2 separate regions of the Homo sapiens genome follow, and region 1 is linked to region 2. Evidence: fine-mapped expression QTL. A gene starts in region 2. The other region holds a variant in brackets. All regions are shown on one strand. Distances are from middle to middle. Region 1 overlaps HK1 (hexokinase 1). Region 2 holds the start of HK1 (hexokinase 1).

Region 1 (8,225 bases), 38 kb after region 2:
TCTAGAACACTGAATCGGTCTCTGGGTTTGCCACTCCCAACCTGTGTGACCTTGGAGAAGCCACTTAACTTCTGAGCCTCCATTTCCTCATGGGTAAAATGGCCATGGTAATCCCTGCCCCACCTGCCTCACCAGGCTATCATCAGGATCAAATGAGAGTCTTTGGAAACTGCAAACCACCGTGAGTTATGGTGCGTCATCGTCATCCTCATCAGTCTTATGATATAATAACTGGCTTTGGAAGAATTCCTTGGGAAAGTCTTTCCTAACCAATGGAGCCAGTCCAAGGACCGCACCCAGCAGGCCTGAATGTGTAAGCCGAGCCCCTGCAGGAAGGATGCAGAGTTTTTCAGGATTCGCTGGCATCTCTGTGATGTTACAGGGGAAGGAGGCAGAGAAAAGGGGCAAGCCAAGGCAGGCTGTCTCACCCCCAACCCCTGAGCTAGCCACATAAAATGTGGGTGAGACCACAGGCTACAGCTCCAGTACCTCTGCAAGGGGGTGACTGGACACGACAGCTCTGAATCAGGGAGCCAACCCGAGGTAAAAGGGACTGATAGGTCCCTTTTGTTATGGAGGGCAAGTGGGTATTTGGGGGATTCATTTCCTGACAAAGAATATTGAACTAACCTGGAAACCTTCTGGTTGTAGCTGAAGGAAATCTGACTCAAATTTGTTTAAGAAAAAAAGAGAATTCTAGTTTCCTATAACTGGGAAGTCTCGCTGTGAGTTGACTTCTGTATCTAGGGATTCATCTGTCTCTTACTAGTTCAGTCAGCTCCTTTCCTGTGTGTTGGCTTCATTCATAGGCCATCTCTCCTCTTACAGTGGCAGGGACGGCCCCTGCAGCCCTAGGCTGACCCCTCCCCTTATAGCCAGCGATCTCTGTGCAAAGAGCAGGCCTTGCTCCCCATGGACCTGTGATGGTCTTGGAGAGGGCTGTGATTGGCTTACTTGGGTTATGTGCCCATCCTGAACCAATCACGATGGACAAGATGGGTGACTTGGGATGCCCCTGGATCCCATGCCTGGATTACGCATTGGTACCCCTGGAGCTGGAGTGGGGATTCAGCCCCACTTCCAACCTCATAGGTGAAAAATGGGAGGGTAGTTATCTAAAGAGATGCTGGACATCCAGGAAAGTTTATCAGTTATCTTGTTGTCCTTAACAGACATCATTCCTCAGTGTCTTTTGCCCGGCAGCGTATAGGACCAGCACTTTGGGAGGCCGAGGTGGGCGGATCACAAGGTCAAGAGATCGAGACCATCCTGGCCAAAATGGTGAAACTCCGTCTCTACTAAAAAATACAAAAATTAGTTGGGCGTGGTGGTGCATGCCTGTAGACCCAGCTACTCGGGAGGCTGAGGCAGGAGAATTGCTTGAACCCGGGAGTTGGAGGTTGCAGTGAACCAAGATTGCGCCATTGCACTCCAGCCCGGGCAACAGTGTGAGACTCCATCTCAAAAAAACAAACAAACAAAAACATGAAATAAATAAATGTTTAGGTGAACATTAAAACAGCAAATTAATTAAGTAAAATATTAAAATAAAAAGTACCGATCATTTCATCTCAGTGTAGTATTTGCTTTTGTGCCCCTTTTCCCCCTATGCACAAGTGGTTTATAGTTGTTTATCAGACTGAGCTTTCACTGTCTTCATTAGAGAATGAAGCAAAATAAAACCAAAGCTGGCCGGGCGCCGTGGCTCACGCCTGTAATCCCAGCACTTTGGGAGGCCAAGGCAGGCGGATCACGAGGTCAGGAGATCGAGACCATCCTGGCTAACACAGTGAAACCCCGTCTCTACTAAAAAAAAAAAAAAAAAAATTAGCTGGGCGTGGTGGCGGGCTCCTGTAGTCCCAGCTACTTGGGAGGCTGAGGCAGGAGAATGATGTGAACCTGGGAGGTGGAGCTTGCAGTGAGCCAAGATCACGCCACTGCACTCCAGCCTGGGCGACAGAGCGAGACTCCGTCTCAAAATTAAATAAATAAATAAATAAATAAATAAATAAATAAAACCAAAGCTAGGCCAGGCACGGTGGCTCACGCCTATAATCCCAGCACTTTGGGAGGCCAGGGCAGTCGGATCATCTGAGGTCAGGAGTTTGAGACCAACCTGGCCAAGGTGGTGAAACCTCGTCTCTACTAAAAATACAAAAAATGAGCTGGGCGTGGTGGTGGGTGGCTGTAATCCCAGCTACTGGGGAGGCTGAGGCAAGAGAATCGCTTGAACCCCGGAGGCGGAGGTTGCAGTGAGCCGAGATCGCGCCATTGCCGTCCAGCCTGGGCAACAAGAGTGAGACTCCGTCTCAAAAACAAAAACAAAAACAAAAAAAACAAAACAAAAAAACCCAAAGCTATAAGGAATCATGGAAGTTGAAGAGCCCCAGAAAAGAAGTGTAGCCATTCCTGATGTGCTGAAGTCTCTCTCTGGCCCCCACTTTCCTTGGGGATCCTTGTCCCTGAGTTCTGTCCAGGAGGCAGTTTTCATGGTTATACATTATGGCTTCGGATTCAAATGCTGACTCTGCCACTTACTGGTTGTGCGTTTGGGCAAGTTATCTAACCCCTCTTTACCTTTACTTGCTCATCTGTAGAATGGGCATCCTGACAGTACTGACTTCATAGGGTTGTGAAGATTGAAAATAAAAGGATACGTATAAGCACTTAGTGATTGGTACAGAAAGACTCAGTGAATGTTAGCTGATGGATGGTCAAATAAAATGTTTCTGATATTCTAGTGACTCACCTGCGAGGAGCTACTTCATACTGAATTCAATTTTTTCAGTTATTTCAATTTTTTTTTTTTTTTGAGACAGAGTCTTGCTCTGTTGCCCAGGCTGGAGTGCAGTGGCATGATCTCGGCTCACTACAACCTCCGCCTCCTGGGTTCAAGCGATTCTCCTGCCTCAGCCTCCTGAGTAGCTGGGATTACAGGCACCTACCACTACACCCAGCTAATTTTTGTATTTTTAGTAGAGACAGGGTTTCTCCATGTTGGCCAGGCTGGTCTCGAACTCCTGACCTCAAGTGATCCACCCGCCTCAGCCTCCCAAAGTTCTGGGATTACAAGCATGAGCCACTGCGCCCGGCTGAATTCAATTTTTTAACCTAGTGGTGGTGTAAAGTACTGTTGGAGTTAGGACTCCAATGGGAGCCCAAAGAAAATTCTATATTGATTTGAACAATGCCACAAAGTCGGGGTCAGAATTTCCACCAAATCTATGACACCTGCTTCCCAGCATTCTCCCTTGTTCTCTCTCTTTCCTTTGGACCACAAATAATTTAAAACCAGTGGCTTCATGTGATATATACATATAATGGAATATAATCGGTTCATAAAAAGGAATGAGGTACTGATCCACGCTACAGCATGGATGAGCCTTGAAAACCTTATGCCGGGTGAAAGAAGCCAGACACAAAGGACCTAATATTATACAATTCCACTTATATGAAATGTCTGGAATAGGGGCATCTGTAGAGCAGAAAGTACATTAGTGGTTGCTGGGAGATAGGGAGGTTGGGAGGAAATGGTGAATGGTTGTTAATGGGTATGGAATTTCTTTTGGGATGATGAAAATTTTCTAAAATTAGATAGTGGTGATGGTTGCACAACTCTGTAAATATGCTGAAAACCACTGAATTTTTCACTTTAAAATGGGTAAAAATTGTATGCTATATTATTATATCTCAATAAAACTGTTATTAAAAAAACAACCAACCAATATGTGAAATAATAAGAAATATACATGTTGGTCTCTGCCCCTAGTCTCTAGCATTTAGCTTCTAAAACCCTTGTAATTTCTTGAGCAATACAGGTGCTAGGAGAATCTTTGATCCTGGTCCTGACTCAGAGCTCCTAAATCCCTTGGAATTTCTTGGGTGATAGGAGAGTCTCTTTTGTTCCTTGGTGGGACCCTGGATAGCCTCAGGATGGGGGGCTGGTTGCCAGGGGGAACCAACCATGTGATCAGAGGGTTGCTGTCAGCCCCAACCCCCATGCCGCCTCCAGGGAGGGAGAGAGCCTGAAAATAGAGCGAATAAACCAATGGTCGATGATTTAATCAATCGCAACTGTGTAATGGTGCTTCCACAAAAACCTAAAACAGGCCAGGTATGATGGCTCACGCCTGTAATCCCAGCATTTTGGGAGGCCCAGGTGGGTGGATCGCTTGAGCCTAAGAGTTTGAGACTAGCTTGGGCAACATGGTAAAACCCTGTCACTACACAAAATACAAAAAAAAGTTAGCCAGATGTGGTGGCACGTGCCGGTAGTTCCAGCTACTCGGGAGGTTGAGGTGGGAGGATCGCTTGGGCTCTGGAGGTTGAGGCTGCAGTAAGCTGTGATCATGCAACTGCACTGCACTCCAGCCTGGGTGACAGAGTGTGACCCTGACTCAAAGAACAAACAAACAAAAC[CAAA/C]AAAAAAAAAAAAAAGCAAAAAGAAGAAAACCTAGAATGACTGAGTTCTGGTAGCTTCTGTCTAGCTGAACACATGGAGGTTCCTGGGTGGCACATCTGGAGGGGGCATGGAAACTCCTGCCCTTTCTCCCATGCCCCTCCCTGTGTATCTCTTCCATCCAGTTCTTCATCTGTATTTATTGTAATATCCTTTATAGTAAATATGTAAATGTAAGTGAAGTGTTTTTTCTGGGTCTGTGAGCTGCCGTAGCAAACTAATGCAACCCAAGGAGGGGGTTGTAGGAACCCCGATTTATAGTGATCAGCCAGAAGCACAGGCCACAACCTGTGCTTGTGACTGGTGTCTGAAGTTGGAGGGAGGGCAGCCTCGTGTGAACGAGCCCTCGACCTGTGGGATATGATGCTATCTCCAGGTAGCTAGTGAAATAATTGAATTGAATTAGAGAGCATGGAGCTGGTGTTCACTGGAGAATTCACTGCAGAATTACTTGCTTGGTGTGTGGGGAAAAACCCACATGCATCCAGGGTCACAGGTGTGTTCTGTGTTGTGGTGAGTAGAGAAAAGGAAAAACATACTCTGGTTTTTCCTCTGTGTGTGTCTCACATGATGGCGTAACTGCTTTGTGCTTAATAAACAGCAAGCAGGGGTGCTGTATTAGTCCGTTTTCATACTGTTAAAAAGAACTGCCTAAGACTGGGTAATTTATAAAGGAAAGAAGTTTAGTTGACTCACAGTTCAGCATGGCTGGGGAGGCCTCAGGAAACTTACAATCATGGTGGAAGGAGAAAAGGCATCTTCCTCACAAAGCGGCAGGAAGGAGAAGTGCTGAGCGAAGGGGGAAGAGCTCCTTATAAAACCATAAGGTCTCATGAGAACCCACTCACTATCACGAGAACAGCATGGGGGGAACCACCTCCATGATTCAGTTACCTCCACCTGGTCTCTTTCTTGATATGTGGGCATTGTGGGGGTTACAACTCAAGATGAGATTTGGGTGGGGACACAAAGCCTAACCATATCAGGTGCCTTGAATGAATGAATGGACCACCAGTCCCTGTGACCAGGCAGCTAATGAGCATTTGCTGAGCTGTCCTGGGTGCCAAGGACAGAGAATCCCAAGTTGTGGTCTTTCCCTCAAGGAACTTGAGAACGAAGATAGGAACAGGCTGGGCGCAGTGGCTCATGCCTGTAATCCTAGCACTTTGGGAGGCCAAGGCAGGTGGATCACCTGTGGTCAGGAGTTTGAGACCAGCCTGACCAACATGGTGAAAACCCATCTCTACTACAAAATACAAAAATTAGCCAAGCATGGTGGTGGACACCTGTAATCCTAGGTACTCGGGAGGCTGAGGCAGGAGAATCACTTGAACCTGGGAGGCAGAGGTTGCAATGAGCCAAGATCACGCCATTGCACTCCAGCCTGGGCAATGGAGGAAGACTCCCTCTCAAAAAAAAAAAAAAAAAAAAAAAAGATAGGAACAGTGACATTCAATGTGAGAATTCCTTGGTTTGTTGTTTATTTCTTTATACCTTCATTAATTCCACAAGTATTTGCTCAGTTTTTACCTACATTCCAAACACCATTGTAAGTTCCAGAAATATAGCAGTGTGTCAGGGCTTATAGCTTGGTAGAATCAAATACAAAGATAAGTCAGCTTTATTGTTAAAAACAGAAAGCAAACCTTATTTTGTGTTGAAAATCAAAAGCTCAAGGGACCCAGAATAACCAAAGCAATCATGAAAAAGAAGAACAAAGCTGAAGGAATTTCACTGCCAATTTCAAAATTTTCAGCAAAGCAACAGTAATCAAGACATGTGGTACTGGCATGAAGGTAGACATGCAGACTAATGGAACAGAATAGAGAGTTCAGAAATAAATGCATACAGGCTGAGTGTGGTGGCTCATGCCTGTAATCCTAGCACTTTGGGAGGCCGAGGCTGGTGGATCACCTGAGGTCAGGAGTTTGAGACCAGCGTGGCCAACATGGTGAAACCCCGTCTCTACTAAAAATACAAAAAAATTAGCCAGTTGTGGTGGCACACGCCTGTAATCCTAGCTACTTGGGAGGCTGAGGCATGAGAATTGCCTGAACCCGGGAGGTGGAGGTTGCAGTGAGCCGAGATCATGCCACTGCATTCCAGCCTGGGTAGCATTCCAGCCTGGGTAACAGAGTGAGACTTTGTCTCGAAAAAAAAAATAAATGCATACATTACGGTCAATTGACTTTTGACAAGAATGCTAGGACTATTCAATGAGGGAAAGAATAGTCTTTTCAGCAAATGGTGCTGGGACACTGGATATCCACATGCAAAAGAATGAAGTTTGACCTACACCTCATACCATATATAAAATTAACTTGAAATGGATCAAATACCTAAATGTGGGAGCTAAAACTAATAAAACTCTTAGAACGAAATACAGGTTTGAATCTTTGTGACCTTGGATTTGGCAATAGAGTCTTAGCTACAACTCCAAAAGCACAAACAATAAAAGAAAAAACGTAAAACTGGACTTCATCAAAATTTAAAACTTGGCCATGCTTGGTGGCTCATGCCTGTAATCCCAGCACTTTGGGAGGCCAAGCAAGAGGATCACTTGAGCGAAGGCATTTGAGACAGCCTGGGCAACATAGTGAGACCTTGTCTCTAAAAAAAATTAAAAATTAGCCAGGTGTGGTCGTATGCCTGTAGTTCCAGCTACTTGGGAGGCTGAGGCTGGAGGATTTCTTGAGTCCAGGAGGTCAAGGGTGCAGTGAGCCATGATTGCACCATTGTACTCCAGCCTGGGCAACAGAGCAAGACCCTGTCTCAAACACAACAACAACAAACATAAAATGTTACTGCATCAAAGGATACCATAAAAAAAAGAAAAGACAATCCACTGAATGGGAGAAAATATTTGCCAGTCATATGTCTGATAAAGGATTTGTATCTAGAACATAAAAAGAACTTTTACAACTCAACACATAAAAGACAAATGAGGCCGGGTGCGGTGGCTCACGCCTGTGATCCCAACACTTTGGGAGGCCGACGCAGGCGGATCACAAGGTCAGGAGTTCGAGACCAGCCTGGCCAACATAGTGAAACCCCGTCTCTACTAAAAATACAAAAATTAGCCAGGCGTGGTGGTGCACGCCTATAATCCTAGCTACTGAGGAGGCTGAGGCAGGAGAATTGCTTGAACCCGGGAAGCAGAGGTTGCAGTGAGTCGAGATTGAGCCACTGCCCTCCAAGCTGGGCAACAGAGCGAAACTCCATCTCAAAAAAAAAAAAAAAAAAAAAAGGAAAAGATAAGCCAAGTGTTTAAAATGAGCAAAGGATCTGAATAGACATTTCTCCAAGTGGCCAATAAGCACATAGAAATGTACTCAACACCATTAGTCATCAGAGAAATGCAAATTGATAAAGAAGTCAGACTGTAATAAGTGTTGATGAAGACATGGAGAACTGAAAACTTCATGCATTACTGGTAGGAATGTAAAATGGTGCAGCTGCTTTGAAGAATGGTGGTAATTCCTTGAAAAGTTAAACATGGGTTACTATTTGACAGCGATTCTTGTCCTAGGTATATATACCCAAGATAAATGAAAACGTGTCCACACAAAAACTTGGGCACAAATATTCATAGTAGTGTTATTCATAATAGCCAAAAGGTAGAAACAAACCAAATGTCTGTCAGTAACAAATGAATAAATAAAATGTGTTATATCTATAGAGTGTAACAGCCATTAAAAGGGATAAAGTCTCATATGCACTATAACATGATGAACCTTAAAAACATTTTGCTTAGTGAAATGAGCCA
Region 2 (13,208 bases):
CACTGCACTTTAGCCTAGGTGACAGCAAGACTTTGTCTCTTTTCTTTCTTTCTTTTTTTTTTTTTTGAGACAGAGTCTCGCTCTGTCCCCTAGGCTGAAGTGCAATGGCATGATCTCGGCTCACTGCAAGCTCCGCCTGCTGGGTTCACGCCATTCTCCTGCCTCAGCCTCCCCAGTAGCTGGAACTACAGGCACCCGCCACCACGCCCGGCTAATTTTTTGTATTTTTAGTGGAGATGGGGTTTCACTGTGCTAGCCAGGATGGTCTCGATCTCCTGACCTTGTGATCCGCCTGCCTCGGCCTCCTAAAGTGCTGGGATTACAGGTGTGAGCCACCGCGCCTGGCATGACTTTGTCTCATTAAAAAAAAAAAAAAAAAAAAAAAAAAAGCCGCGAGGTGGCTCATGCCTGTAATCCCAGCGCTTTGGGAGGCTGAGGTGGGCGGATCATGAGGTCAGGAAATTGAGACCATCCTGGCTGACACGGTGAAACCCCATCTCTACTAAAAATACAAAAAATTAGCTGGGCGTGGTGGTGTGCACCTGTAGTCCCAGCTCCTCGGGAGGCTGAGGCAGGAGAATCACCTGAACCCGGGAGGCGGAAGTTGCAGTGAGTTCAGATTGCACCACTCGGCCAGGCGAGGTGGCTCACTCCTGTAATCCTAGCACTTTGGGAGGCCGAGGCAGGCAGATCACCTGAGGTCAGGAGTTTGAGACTAGCCTGACCAACATGGTGACACCCCATCTCTACTAAAAATACAAAAAAAATTAGCCGGGTGTTGTGGCGCATGCCTGTAATCCCAGCTACTTGGGAGGCTGAGGCAGGAGAATTGCTTGAACCCGGGAGGCGGAGGTCACAGTGAGCCGGGATCACGCTACTGCACTCCAGCCTAGGCAACAAGAGCGAAACTCCATCTCATAAAAAAAAAAAAAAGAGATTGTACCACTGAACTCCAGCCTGGGTGACGGAGTGAAACTCCATCTAAAAAAAAAAAAAAAAAAATCTGGCCAGGCATGGTGGCTCACACCTGTAATCCCAGTACTTTGGGAGGCCAAGGCAGGCAGATCACTTGAGGTCAGGAGTTCGAGACCAGGCTGGCCAACATGGCAAAACTCCCTCTCTATTAAAAACACAAAAATTAGCCGGGTGTGGTGGTGGATGCCTCTAATCCCAGCTGCTTGGGAGGCTGAGGCATGAGAATCGCCTGAACCCATCAGGCAGAGGTTGCAGTGAGCCGAGATCGTGCCACTGAACTGCAACCTGGGTGACAGAGCCAGACTTTGTCTCAAAAAAAAAAAAAAAAAAAAAATCCTTTCTAAGCCATATAAAAACTCAGAATCTAATTTTTGTTTATATGTTTAACTTGCTGACCCATGTCATCTTAGAGCCTAGGAACCCTGCCTAGGTGTTGACATGAACTCTGTGTGAGCATTTTCCAGTATATCTTGGTGCTGTTGATAAAGAGTCAGTCTGTAAAATATTTGAAGAGATTATTCTGAGCCAAATATGAGCAGCCAGTAGCCCATGACACAGCCCTCAGGAGATCCTGAGAACATGTGCCCCAAGCAGTCAAACTACAAGTTTATTCATTTCAGGAAGACAATAAAATATCAGTCAATACATGTAAGAGGTACATTGGTTGGCTGGGCCTGGTGGCTCATGCCTGTAATCTCAGCACTTTGGGAGGCTGTGGCAGGCGGATCACCTGAGGTCAGGAGTTCGAGACCAGCCTGGCCAAAATGGTGAAACCCTGTCTCTACTAAAAATACAAAATTTAGCTGGGCATAGTGGCAGGCACCTGTAATCCCAGCTACTCAGGGGGCTGAGGCAGGAGAATCACTTGAACCTGGGAGGCGGAGGTTGCAGTGAGCCGAGACTGCACCACTGCACTTCAGCCTGGGCAACAGAGTGAGACTCCGTCTCAAAAAAAAAAAAAAGTGATAAGGGGTTGTGGAGACCAAGGTTTTATACAGATGAAGCCTCCAGATAGCAGGCTTCAGAGAAAAGATTGTAAATGTTTCTTATTAGACTTAGAGAGTCTGTTCTATTCTATCAGTCTGTTGATGTTAATGCTGGTCGGATGGGACTGAATTCCAAAAGGGATGAAGGTATGATGAAGTATGTCTGACACCCCCATTCCATCATGGCCTGAGCTAGTTTTTCAGGTTAACTCTTGAATGCCCTGGCTGAGAGGAGAGGTTGAATCAGATGATGAGGAGGATGGTGGGTTAGAATTTTATTTGTGGTTTACAATGCTAACTCGAAGGAAAGGATTGAGGACTTTTTCCTGGCCCTGTGAAGGTCGTTGTGTGTGGGTGCTGGGAGAACTATCCCAGGAAACTCAGGGTAACTGGCAAGGTGATTTGAGATTGCTCTGGTCCAAAAGATAACGATTTCATTTGGGGAAACCATTTCCTTTGGAGAGCTGGCTGAGATAAGGAGCTAGTCTGAAGCCTGGGAAGGCCTCAACAATCTGGTTAACCCTTCCTCCTCCAGGATACAATTCTTTCTTTTTTTTTCTGAGACGGAGTCTTCCTCTGTTGCCCAGGCTGGAGTGTAGTGGCACAGTCTTGGCTCACTGCAACCTCCACCTCCTGGGTTCAAGCAATTCTCCTGCCTCAGCCTCCCGAGTAGCTGGGACTATAGGTGCATGCCACCACGTGCAGCTAATTTTTGTGTTTTTAGTAGAGATGGGATTTCATCATATTGGCCAGGCTGGTCTAGAACTCCTGACCTCGTGATCCGCCTGCCTCGGCCTCCCAAAGTGCTGGGATTATAGGCGTGAGCCACCGCGCTCGGCCCAAGCTACAGTTCTTTACGCCTATGACTTTTGTCAGGCTCAGAGGCAATTTAATGAGGATGGGATGTCTAGAAAGGGACAGGGTGGGACTCGGATTTCCTTGGCTCTTCTGAGGAACTTTTACCTTCAAAGGGGAGTAGAAGCCACTGCAGGGTGGAAGGAAAACTTCCGCTTCCCCCTCCGTGAATTTGCTGAAAAGTCAACAGACAAAAGACGATTAAGAGAAAAGGCATACACATTTTCTAATATGCCTAGAAGAAAACACAGTGATTACCCTAACCCTTCAATGGAGTACAGAAGCTTATATAGCCTTTTATTTCTGAGACAGAGGCTCACTCTGTCGCCCAGGCTGGAGGGCAGTGGCATGAGCTTGGCTCACTGAAATCTCTGCCTCCCAGGTTCAAGTGATTCTCCTGTCTAAGCCTCCTGAGTAGCTGGGATTACAGGCTTGCACCACCACGCCCAGCTAATGTTCGTGGTTTTAGGAGAGAGATGGAGTTTCACCATGTTGGCCAGCCTGGTCTGGAACTCCTGACCTCAAGTGATCCACCCGCCTCGGCCTCCCAAAGTGCTGGGATTACAGGCGTGAGCCACCGTGCCTGGCCATATAGCCCTTTTTTTTTTTTCTGAAGCTGGTAAGGAGATGGGGAATATGCTAATTCTGTAATTCTGCATGATTTCTCAGGAGAAAGAAGGGATCAGAGAATTGAGATTAACTTGTAAATGGCTCTCTTTGGAAACTGAATAAGCCCGAGAGACAGACAGGCATTTTATCCCTCTAGGGGTGGTGACATTCTTCAGTCTTCTTTTCTGCAATAGAGAATCAGATAACGGGAAGGGGAAGGGAAAAAATTGTTCCCCCAGGGGCATCCTTCTGGTCTTTTGGTCTTTCCCCTTTGGAGGTGGGGCAGTCTCTTCCAGTGTCTGTTGATCTTTAAGGGCCTTTCATTCAAAATACTCTTTACACAAGGGAGCCGTATTTTGGGGTGAATTATGTTGGTTTCCTTCACCTCCTTGGGAGGTGGGAAATGTGTCCTGAAAGGTCAGGGCCTCTCTGAGTGGAGATGAACAGGTCAGGGTTGAGTAAGGAGGAGGCTGGCAGGGGCCTTTATGATACCTGAGAGGACTGGGGCTTGGATGGAGCAAGAGAGGCACTGATGGAGTAAGATTCAGGTACAAGACTTAAGTCTTGCATCCTAGGCACGGCTCTTGCCTCATCCTCATCCCAGCCCTAATAATGGGAGGCTTTTTGCCGGTAAATTCCCATTATTAGGAGCTGAAAATGTCAATGCCTTACAGGCGCCAGTCAGCAGTGTCAAGCAGTGGGCTGGGTGGGGCCTGGGCTGGCTGGAGCTCCCCTACCCTGTCTAAAGGGGGCGGTGGCTGCTCAGCTCCAGCATATGCGGGGAAGGCGCTGGCTAAGATAAGGAGCTAGTGCCATGATGACCACGTTGCCACAGGATCAAGTGGGTCCTGTGTGGTGTCACCTTTAGGTGCCTGAAATCTAGATTTTATTTTATTTATTTTATTACTATACATATTTTTTGAGACGGAATTTCGCTTTTGTGGCCCAGACTGGAGGGCAATGGCGCAATCTCGGCTCACCACAACCTCTGCCTCCCGGGTTCAAGCGATTCTCCTGCCTCAGCCTCCCAAGTAGCTGGGATTACAGGCGTACACCACCATGCTGAGTAGCTGGGATTACAGGCATGTGCCACCATGCCTGGCTAATTTTGTATTTTTAGTAGAGATGGGGTTTCTCCATGTTGGTCAGTCTGGTCTCGAACTCCCGACCAGATGATCCGTCTGCCTCAGCCTCCCAAAGTGCTGGGATTACAGGCGTGAGGCACCGGCCTGAAATCTAGATTTTAAAGTGAAATTTCTTAATTTTTTTTTAAGGGCAGGCACAAATTTATAAAACATCAGGTGGGCCAAATAAAATGTTACAGGCCACAGTTTTAGCTTGGTGGTTGCTGATTTACTGACCCTGTTATAATATTGGAGGTCAGGACTTTGGGCAAATGAAAGAGAAAAGGAGGCAGACTGAGAATGTGATTTTACAACTCCAGCCTCTCCAGGGGCTGGGTGGCCAGTGTCTCCTCAGCAGCCTTCTCCCGCAGGAAGCAGAACTGTCTGCAACGCTGATGGAGTCACAGTAACCTTCACCCCACTGAGCTCAGGATCTGCAGAGCCACTAAGACCCTGGAGCAACTGCCTTCAGCATCCAACAGAAGCTGCTAAAAGGATTATGGGTCAATTCATTTTAGACATTTCTTCCAGATGTTCCCATGGAAAGCTAGGGTCTAAATCAGTGGTCCTCATTCCTGGCAGCACCTGAGTTTCACCTGGGGAACTGTTAGAAAGTGAAACTTGGACGGCATTCACATTAGTCCAGTCTCTGGGTGGGGCTTGGACATCAGCATTTGTAGAAGCTCCCTAGGTGGCTTTGGTGCAGCCAGGTTGGAAACCACTGATCCAACTAATAGAAATGCTAGGTTGGGATCTCTTCCGAGGCATCTCTTTAGGACAGGCTGTGCATGACAGTCCCATAGTGTCAGGGTTCTAAGATGCTCCAATGGTTTAGGCACTGGTCTTAATTTTCGTTTTTTCGCTCTCTTTGAGACCTTAACAAACTCTATAGGGCTGGGCACAATGGCTCACGTCTATAATCCCAGCATTTTTTTCTTTTTTTCTTTTTCTTCTTTCCTTTTCTTTTCTCTTCTCTTCTCTCTTTTCTTTTCTTTCTTTTTTTCTGAGACTGTCTCACTCTGTCGCCCAGGCTGGAGTGCAGTGGCACAATCTTGGCTCACCACAACCTCCACCTCCCAGGTTCAAGCGATTCTCTTGCCTAAGCCTCCCAAGTAGCTGGGACTACAGGCTCTTGCCACTATGCCCAGCTAATTTTTGTATTTTTAGTAGAGACAGGGTTTCACTATGTTGGCCAGGCTGGTCTCGAACTCCTGACCACGTGATCCTCCCACCTCAGCCTCCCAAAGTGCTGGGATTACAGGCGTGAGCCACTGCGCCTGGCCAATTCCAGCAGTTTTAGAGGTCAAGGCAAGAGGATCCCTTGAGTCCAGGAGTTCGAGACCAGCCTGGGCAACATGGCAAGACCTCATTTCAATTTAAGAAAAAAACCAAAACACCCAAGCTCTATAACCTTCACATCCTCATTGACTGATTAAGTGCAGATAATGATATTTGCCCTTCTAACCTCACCAGGCTGTTATCAGGAGAAATGAAGCAATAAATGAGAAATTGCTCTGCAAACTGTCAACGTTATGTAAACATTGCTATTCAGAGTGTGCTCCCAGGTGCGGGAGGTACAGCTGTTATCTGTTGGAGATCACTCCTGAAGTAACATTCCTAGTGCCATGGGTCAGATGGGAATTGGTACAGACATTCCAACTTAGAAGGCAGCCTTTATTGTCTTATAAGCAGGTGCGTTTCCTGGGGTGGCAGCCTGGCACTGGTCACTCCAACCCCAACTTGTGTAGGAGGTACCACAGTAAATGAGTAGAGAGAGTTCAGGGGACTTGAAGGGAAGTGGAGGGCCATCTGGAGAGGGAGGGAACTAAGGACTCCCTGTGGGTTGGGGTCTTCCTGAGGATCCAGGGAGTAACTGTCAAGGAGCCTTAGCAGGGATCTAAGAGCTATGCAAGAGCAAAAAGAGGCAAATTATTAAGGAAATTAGTGAAGTCAGCACTGGAACAACAGAGAGGGGACACAGCAGTGCAGCATGGGCCCTGGCCTCAGGAAGCTGTCTGATTGGGGCAGATAGGACCAGCCCCCTAGAAGACAGTCACCCATATCAGTTAGGCAGTCATGACTCAGTGTTACTTATCTGAGGCCCAGGTTGCATGAGGGGTTGGGGGTGGGATGGACAGAGCACTGGCTGGGCATCAGGACTAGGCTGGAGTCCTGGCTCAAAACTCTACCACAACCTGACACTGGGCAAGATGGCCCACCTGTGGCATCCCAGGTTCCTGCCCTGTAAAGAGGAGTCTGGGTGTATATCCAGATGGACTGTGAGCACAGCCTGAGTTTGCCCTGTCGAGGTGCTGAGGCCTGGGAGATTGGGGTGAGTAGCTGTGGTCCAGGGAAGGTTGGCAAGCTGGGCCTTAGATGAGAGGGGATGCTTGGTCAGGCAGAGGTGAGTGGAGAAGGCAGGGCAAGGAAGGGAATATGAGCGGCGAACAAATGGAGTGGACATGGTGGGGGCAGAGGATGGTGGGAAGTGGCCTTGTTGCGGCCAGAGTGGAGGAAGAGATAAGTGGGAAAGAGTGGAGTCGATTACAGAAGGCCTCGGAAACCAGGCAGAGATGTTTAAATTGGCTCTCTCAGGAAGGAGAGGGCCATGAAGGGATTTAGGGAAGGGTCATGACATGATTATGCTGCATTTTAGCAGGATTAATGTGACCTGGTGCTCAGAATGACTTGGATGGCATGAGGCCAGGAGCCGAGGAGGACAGTTAGAAGACTCTTGTAATATTTCTGGCACAGGGAGATGGACTGGGAGTTGGGAGGTGGCAATAGGTCAGGCCTAGAGACATTTCTCAGGAAATATTGACAGGCCTTGGGGCCTGGTTGCATTCATGGAGTGGGGAGGAATGAGTCACCTTGAGAAGCAGTTTCCCTCTCAAAGGCCAGGGAAGACAAAGCAGAGGCAGCTTTCCTGCCTGCAAACAGGACATTTCAGGGTAACCTGGCTCTTCCAAGCGTCAGCTTCTCCCTGGCTCCAGCTCAGATAGGAGTTGTAACAACGGGTTGGGCATGGGTGATGGCACCGGCTGGTGGCTGGGTTAAGGGCCATGTTTTTGATTATGCATTAGGCTTATTCAGCCTGCCAAGTGCCAGGCCCTGCGCTTGTGTAGGAGACAGAGCAATTAGCAAAACATAGTCCTCCATCCTCAAGGAGTTTCCAGCCCTGTGAGCTTGGCAGATCTGCAGAACTCAAATGAAATGGCAGTTGAGAACAACCATCTTGTTCTCATTCACTCCATTTTGCTTAACGGCCATGTAGGTAGTTCCAAATGTTTGATGTGTACCAGAAAATCTCTCTCTTCCTGGTTTATAATTATGATCCAGGGCAAATCCAGGTTTTGTTGGGCTTGAAAATTAAATAAATTGGCACTCTCTATGGAAAATAATTCAAATATAAATATACAAATATCACACTGCTAGGCCCTCCCAGGGCCTAGAAGGGTAGGAATGAAAGTGAGAGTCCCTGAAGCTTTAACCGCATTAACTTTTCAGTCAGTTCTATGATACCTGCCATTCCTTAAGTGTGTATTATGTGCACGTATTTTGCGTACAGTATTACACAACAATCAAGGGGAGGTGAGGTGGGCATTAGTGTCTTCATCTTATGGATGAAGACACAGTCTCAGAGGTGATTCAAGATGCCCCTCTGCATAGGCCCTAAGGCAGGGGGTGGGGACTGTGACCTGGACAGGAAGCTGGGGCCTCAGGACTGCATCTAAGCTCCTCCTTTTCTGTGGGTGATGGTGGCTGTCAGGCCCCTGAACCTACGTCATCCCTCCCTCTGATTTGACTGTACCTTTGCTAGGCCTGGTCAAGGGCTAGGGACTCCTAAAGTCAAGAGCTAGGGTAGAGGTTGGGGGTTGGATCTCAGGGCACCATATGGTGCAGACTTGGTTGCAGGAAAGTGACCTATTTAGGCAGAGGGGCTCTATACAACTGGGACCACAGCAAACCCTAGAGGTGAGCACCTGCTTCAAAGACTCACAGATCCAAGCTGTGATCCTAGATCTACAACTTCCTGGCTGTATAAAGTCCAGCAAGACTGAGGCCTCACTGAGCTTCAATTTCCTTACCTGTCTAACCAGAATAGCAACAACTTGTTTGTATATTTGAGCTCATTACATGTCATTTTGTAAGGCACTAAAGCTCCTGGAGGCTTCCGGAACACAGAAATAATTAATCTAAGAATCCTAAAGTGGCTGTCCTGGTAGCACCTCTAGGGAGTCCTCCCATCCTACGTAACTTCCTCTGGGAAAGTAGAAAACACGGCACCTGGGAAGGGGCGCTGAACCGTGCCCCAAGTCCCAGTGGGCCTGGATGCCCAAGAGCAAGAGGAGGCCCAGAGGATGGGGACAGGCCACGACCTGTGGCCCAAGTCCCGCCCAGAGGGAGTGCGCCCTGAGGGAGAGCCACCGGAGCTGGTGACTCGGGGGCGGGTGCTCTGGGGTGTCGCTTTGGGTTCAGCAATACAAATCTGCCAGCTGGAGATTAGGCGGGGCACGCCGGGGAGAGGTGATGCACTGCCGCTGAAGACCCAGGTAGGCCGGTGCGTTCGGCCTGGGTGAGGAAGGCGCGGGACCCGGGTGCGAGGACTGCGTAGCGTCCCCGGCTCCCGCTTCCGCCCGCTTTCCACGCCCACTTCTGCAAGTCCCCTCCGGCACCTCGGCGTCCACCGGACTCCTAGGGGCGAGCCCTCATTTCCGAGGAATGGGACCGCCTTCGTGCCCCCGGGGCTGCCAGTCCCTAGACTAGCCCTAGGGGCTTCTCGTCCCGGCGGAGCCGGGCGGTGCCTCCTGCCTGCGCCTCGCACCTCCCCGCCTGGCACGGCCCACCCGGGCACGGCGCCGCCACGCGTGAAGGCCCGCATCGGCTCCCTACGTGGGGGACGTGCAGGATGATGCGGGGTCGGGGGGGATTTCGCTGCGTCGCCCGCCCCCTTTCCGGCGCAGGAGGGAGCGGCCGCCGCGTCCCCGCTCCCCGGCCGGGACGCCACCGCCGGGCGTTGCAGAGGCGCGCCGCAACCAATGGGCGTGGAGGAGGTGGGTCGGCTGGCGGCTGTCACCCTCCAGGGGACGGGAGCGCGGAGACCGGGAGCGCGCGAGCTGTCGCCGCGCCCCGGGCCGAGGGGGAGGAGCCGGGGGAGGAGGAGGAGGAGGAGCCGCCGAGCAGCCGCCGGAGGACCACGGCTCGCCAGGGCTGCGGAGGACCGACCGTCCCCACGCCTGCCGCCCCGCGACCCCGACCGCCAGCATGATCGCCGCGCAGCTCCTGGCCTATTACTTCACGGAGCTGAAGGATGACCAGGTCAAAAAGGTGAGCCCCCGCCCGCGCCGCCGCTGGTCCTGGCCGCAGCCTTGCGTTCCGGCATCCGCTCGCCGCCTCCGCTGCCTCCATCCTCCGGCGCCCGGCCTTCTCCGGGCCAGCATCGAGTTGGACTGCAGGGCGCAAGGAAAGCCTTCGCCTTCGATTCTACCGGCATTGTCAGTGTCTCTGTGTGTGTGCGTTTTTGGGAGGGGGGCAATCGGGCGGAAGACCCCCGAGACCGGGCTGCCTGCTGCAGTGTCCTTGAAACGGGCCCTGGATGTCAGATAGGCCCCCGGGCTGTGCGGGGAGGTGGCCGGTGGGCCCTTCCGCAGGGCCTGTTCGGGAGGGTCCGAGCGCCGTGGGAGGAGGTGTGATCATGGAGATGCTGGGGAGGTGATCGAGCAGCAGGCGGGGGTGCTGGCTGGAGGCCAGGCCTCCCATATTTGGGGTTCCTGGCGGAGGGTGTCGGGTGCCCCGGAGAAGCTGTCGCCGGGCTCTCCCAGTTGTTTGAGCTGCTCGTTAATCTGAGGACGAGGTGACCCGCCCGGCTTCCCGGAACGGGGAGGGGCGGCGAGGCCACCGGAAACTTTGCTCATAGGCCTCGTGTCTGGAGCGGCACGTCTGAATGGAATTTTTTATTCCTCTTAAGCTGTAATTTCTAGCCAGCACAGGAGCTCAAATAAGCGACTGGTCATTTGAGTTGGGTGGACGCCTGTGGCATGCTTGTTCTAGCACTTGGACGCATGCATCCTCCTGTCCTGAGGTGTTGTTGCCTTTGACATCTTAGTGTAAAATACTGTCCGCTGGCAGGTCTTAAAGGTGTATTTGTCTCTTCTGCCAGCTGTGCTACCATATTTTAAAGAAACAGCCTAAGCTGTAGGGAAAGACGCCCGTTTTATCAGTGCCAGGTCTGGTACAGGCTCCAGGCCCACCCACCCTGAACGTGGTGACGTTATTGCTGGGGTTAGCTGGGATGGACTGGCAAAGTCATCTTGACTTTGGCGTTCAGACAGGTGGAGTTCTACAGGTGAAAGGCAGGAGTGACAGGCCTTGATTTTCTGCCCGGCAAGCCATAGGGTGTTCCATCCTCTTCCTGTGCATCTAAGATGACTCCCTCATCTGGCACCATAGGAAACAGGCCTACTGAGGGCAGCGACCTTATCAAGGTCACCCAGTGAGTTAGAGGCAGAGCCAGTCAGGGGGATCCAGGTCTCCCAGTGCCTCCACCCAGGAACTTCACCAGGGTCCTCCTGGAGGTCAGCTTCCAGGAGGGAGTGGGTACTGAGAGACAAAGCCGCTGGGGACCCTGCCGTGATCTTGGATCCCATGGTGGGTGGGGACCGGGAGTGAGGTAGGTAGGAGATAGGCTTGGGAATGCCATCTGCCATTGCTCTTTATGGCTTTAAGCACTCTGGGGTTGTCAAACCGTGGCACTCGAAACACTTGCTCCTATGGAGCACCCTGGAGCTTCCCTCTGGCCACTGACCTGGGAGCTGTGCGTGCGGGTGTGTGCATTTCATGAGTTTTCTCTAGTGGTGTTGTGCATCACTGATGTTCTTCCCATTGGACCAGGGAGACAGTTCTCCCGGCATGGCAAGAAGTGCCCAGAACAGGCCTCCTGAAGCCAAGAGTTCACTGTCCTCCTGCACGTGGTGTCCTTTATAGCTCAAGACAGTGGGCTGCTGGGCTGGGGGGTGCCTGGGTGACCTTGTAAACCTCCAGTGTCCACACCCACCACCACCCACAACAGACTGCTGGCTGTTGGCTGCCGGTGGCCTCCAGCAGCTGAGCTGGGCTGAGGTTTGGACTCCATTCAGTGGGACATGTTTTCTCAGACATACAGTGTCTAGGGTGGGCCCAGAGCTCTCCACTCCTGTGGGTGGCTCAATTCACATCTATGGATGCACAGTCTATCTCCTAGGCCCCCGTAGGTACCTGAGTGTGTGATTCAGTTGACCCTTCCATCCCTCCTCACTCCGAGTTTGGGATTCTGATGTTCTTCCCTTCTCTTCCCCGAGAACCTTGCTGGAGGAAGGTCTTAAGGCCAAGGTTTCCACCAGATATTATTTGTCAAGGAGATTCTTAAAAACAAGATGTTTGCTTGCATTTCACCACGGACTTCCTATGCTGCTTTCTATAGGGGAGTACGTGGATTCCTGCCAGGGGGTCCACTCATTTTGCATAGTGGACTGTGTGGCACAGCCATCTGTGGGTGTGGTCCTGGCTATGATTGCGCCACCGCACTCCAGCCTGGGCCTTCTAAGGACAGTGACATAGTGGGTACTTGCTCCAGTGACCTACTCAGTTTTGCCCAAGTGTGCAGATGCTGGGGACCACATCTGCTCTTCTGGGGCCCAGGATTTCTTAGAGACCAGCTCTTTCCACGTACCACTCACCATAGGAAAGGCTAGGTGAAGGTGCGGGACCCCCTGTTCTTCCTGTGGGGCTGGACTCTGCCTGCCTCCCAGCAGGGACCTGCTGAGGATGGTTCCCCCCCAGCGTGGGCAGCCATGATGATTCAGCCCTCCAGCTGTAGGCAGCCTCCGGGGCTCTGGAGACAGACCTGGCATCCCTCAGTAACTCTCATCTATCTTCTTGCCCTCAGAGCCAGAGGTAGGAGAAGGGAAGCTGGGGACCATGCCGGGGAAGTTTTTGGGATTGCTTAGAATCCAAACGTGATCATGAAAATGGTGTCATTTCTTTCTTCATTGCCTATGAGGCACATCAATAATTCAACTCCATAAAAATATATCCTGGGTTGAAACAGTTCAGGTGTCTGACTTCCCAGCTTGGAACCCCATTATCCAGACGGCATCTGCATAAATTGGTTAATGGGTGCTGTTGAAGAGGGTGTACTGGCATTAGGCTGAGCTAAGCACAAAACACATATATTCCTTTCACTCTTCTAGTGCCTGTAGGAGGAAAGGGAGGCATATGTGTGCTTGTGAAGGATTCCATTCATCAGAATCCCAGACATCTGCCAGTTCTGCAGCTAGAGGCTGGGTTCTTTGACCTCTAAGTAACTTTAAACACGCATCTCATCTCGCCAGCTTCTTCCACTCGGTTTAGCCATTAGGAGCTTGGAGCAGGGTGAAGGATTGCATAGTGCTCTGTTTGTTTAGAAAGGGAAGATGGGTCCAGGAAGGTCAGAACTTGGCTTCTAAAGAAAGATTAGACTTCCTTTCCTCCAGGCTTGTCAGAATGGTGAGCAAATGCCAGTGGATTTTCTCTGGGCGAGATCCCCATAACGCTAAGTGATTTCCACTAGTAGGTGATCATGAAAAGGGTGTCATTTCTTTCCTCATTGCCTTGAGGCACATCAATAATTCAACTCCATAAA

The links.
Region 1: its variant is fine-mapped to the expression of HK1 in neutrophils (CEDAR, PIP 0.92).

Annotation. Positions count from the first base shown.
Region 1 is chr10:69,349,199-69,357,423 of GRCh38, forward strand. The region is part of intron 2 of HK1 (hexokinase 1); the gene reads left to right. Among named protein-coding and RNA genes, the nearest start is that of HK1, 34 kb to the left of the region's middle. The variant CAAA/C (reference allele first, on the strand shown) is at 4,420.
Region 2 is chr10:69,309,134-69,322,341 of GRCh38, forward strand. It overlaps HK1 (hexokinase 1), which reads left to right and starts at 9,714. Exons shown (of 18, transcript NM_000188.3): 1 at 9,714-9,877. The coding sequence starts at 9,815. RefSeq lists enhancers at 3,694-4,195, 8,728-8,957, 10,248-10,297, 11,883-12,799 and a silencer at 9,268-9,947.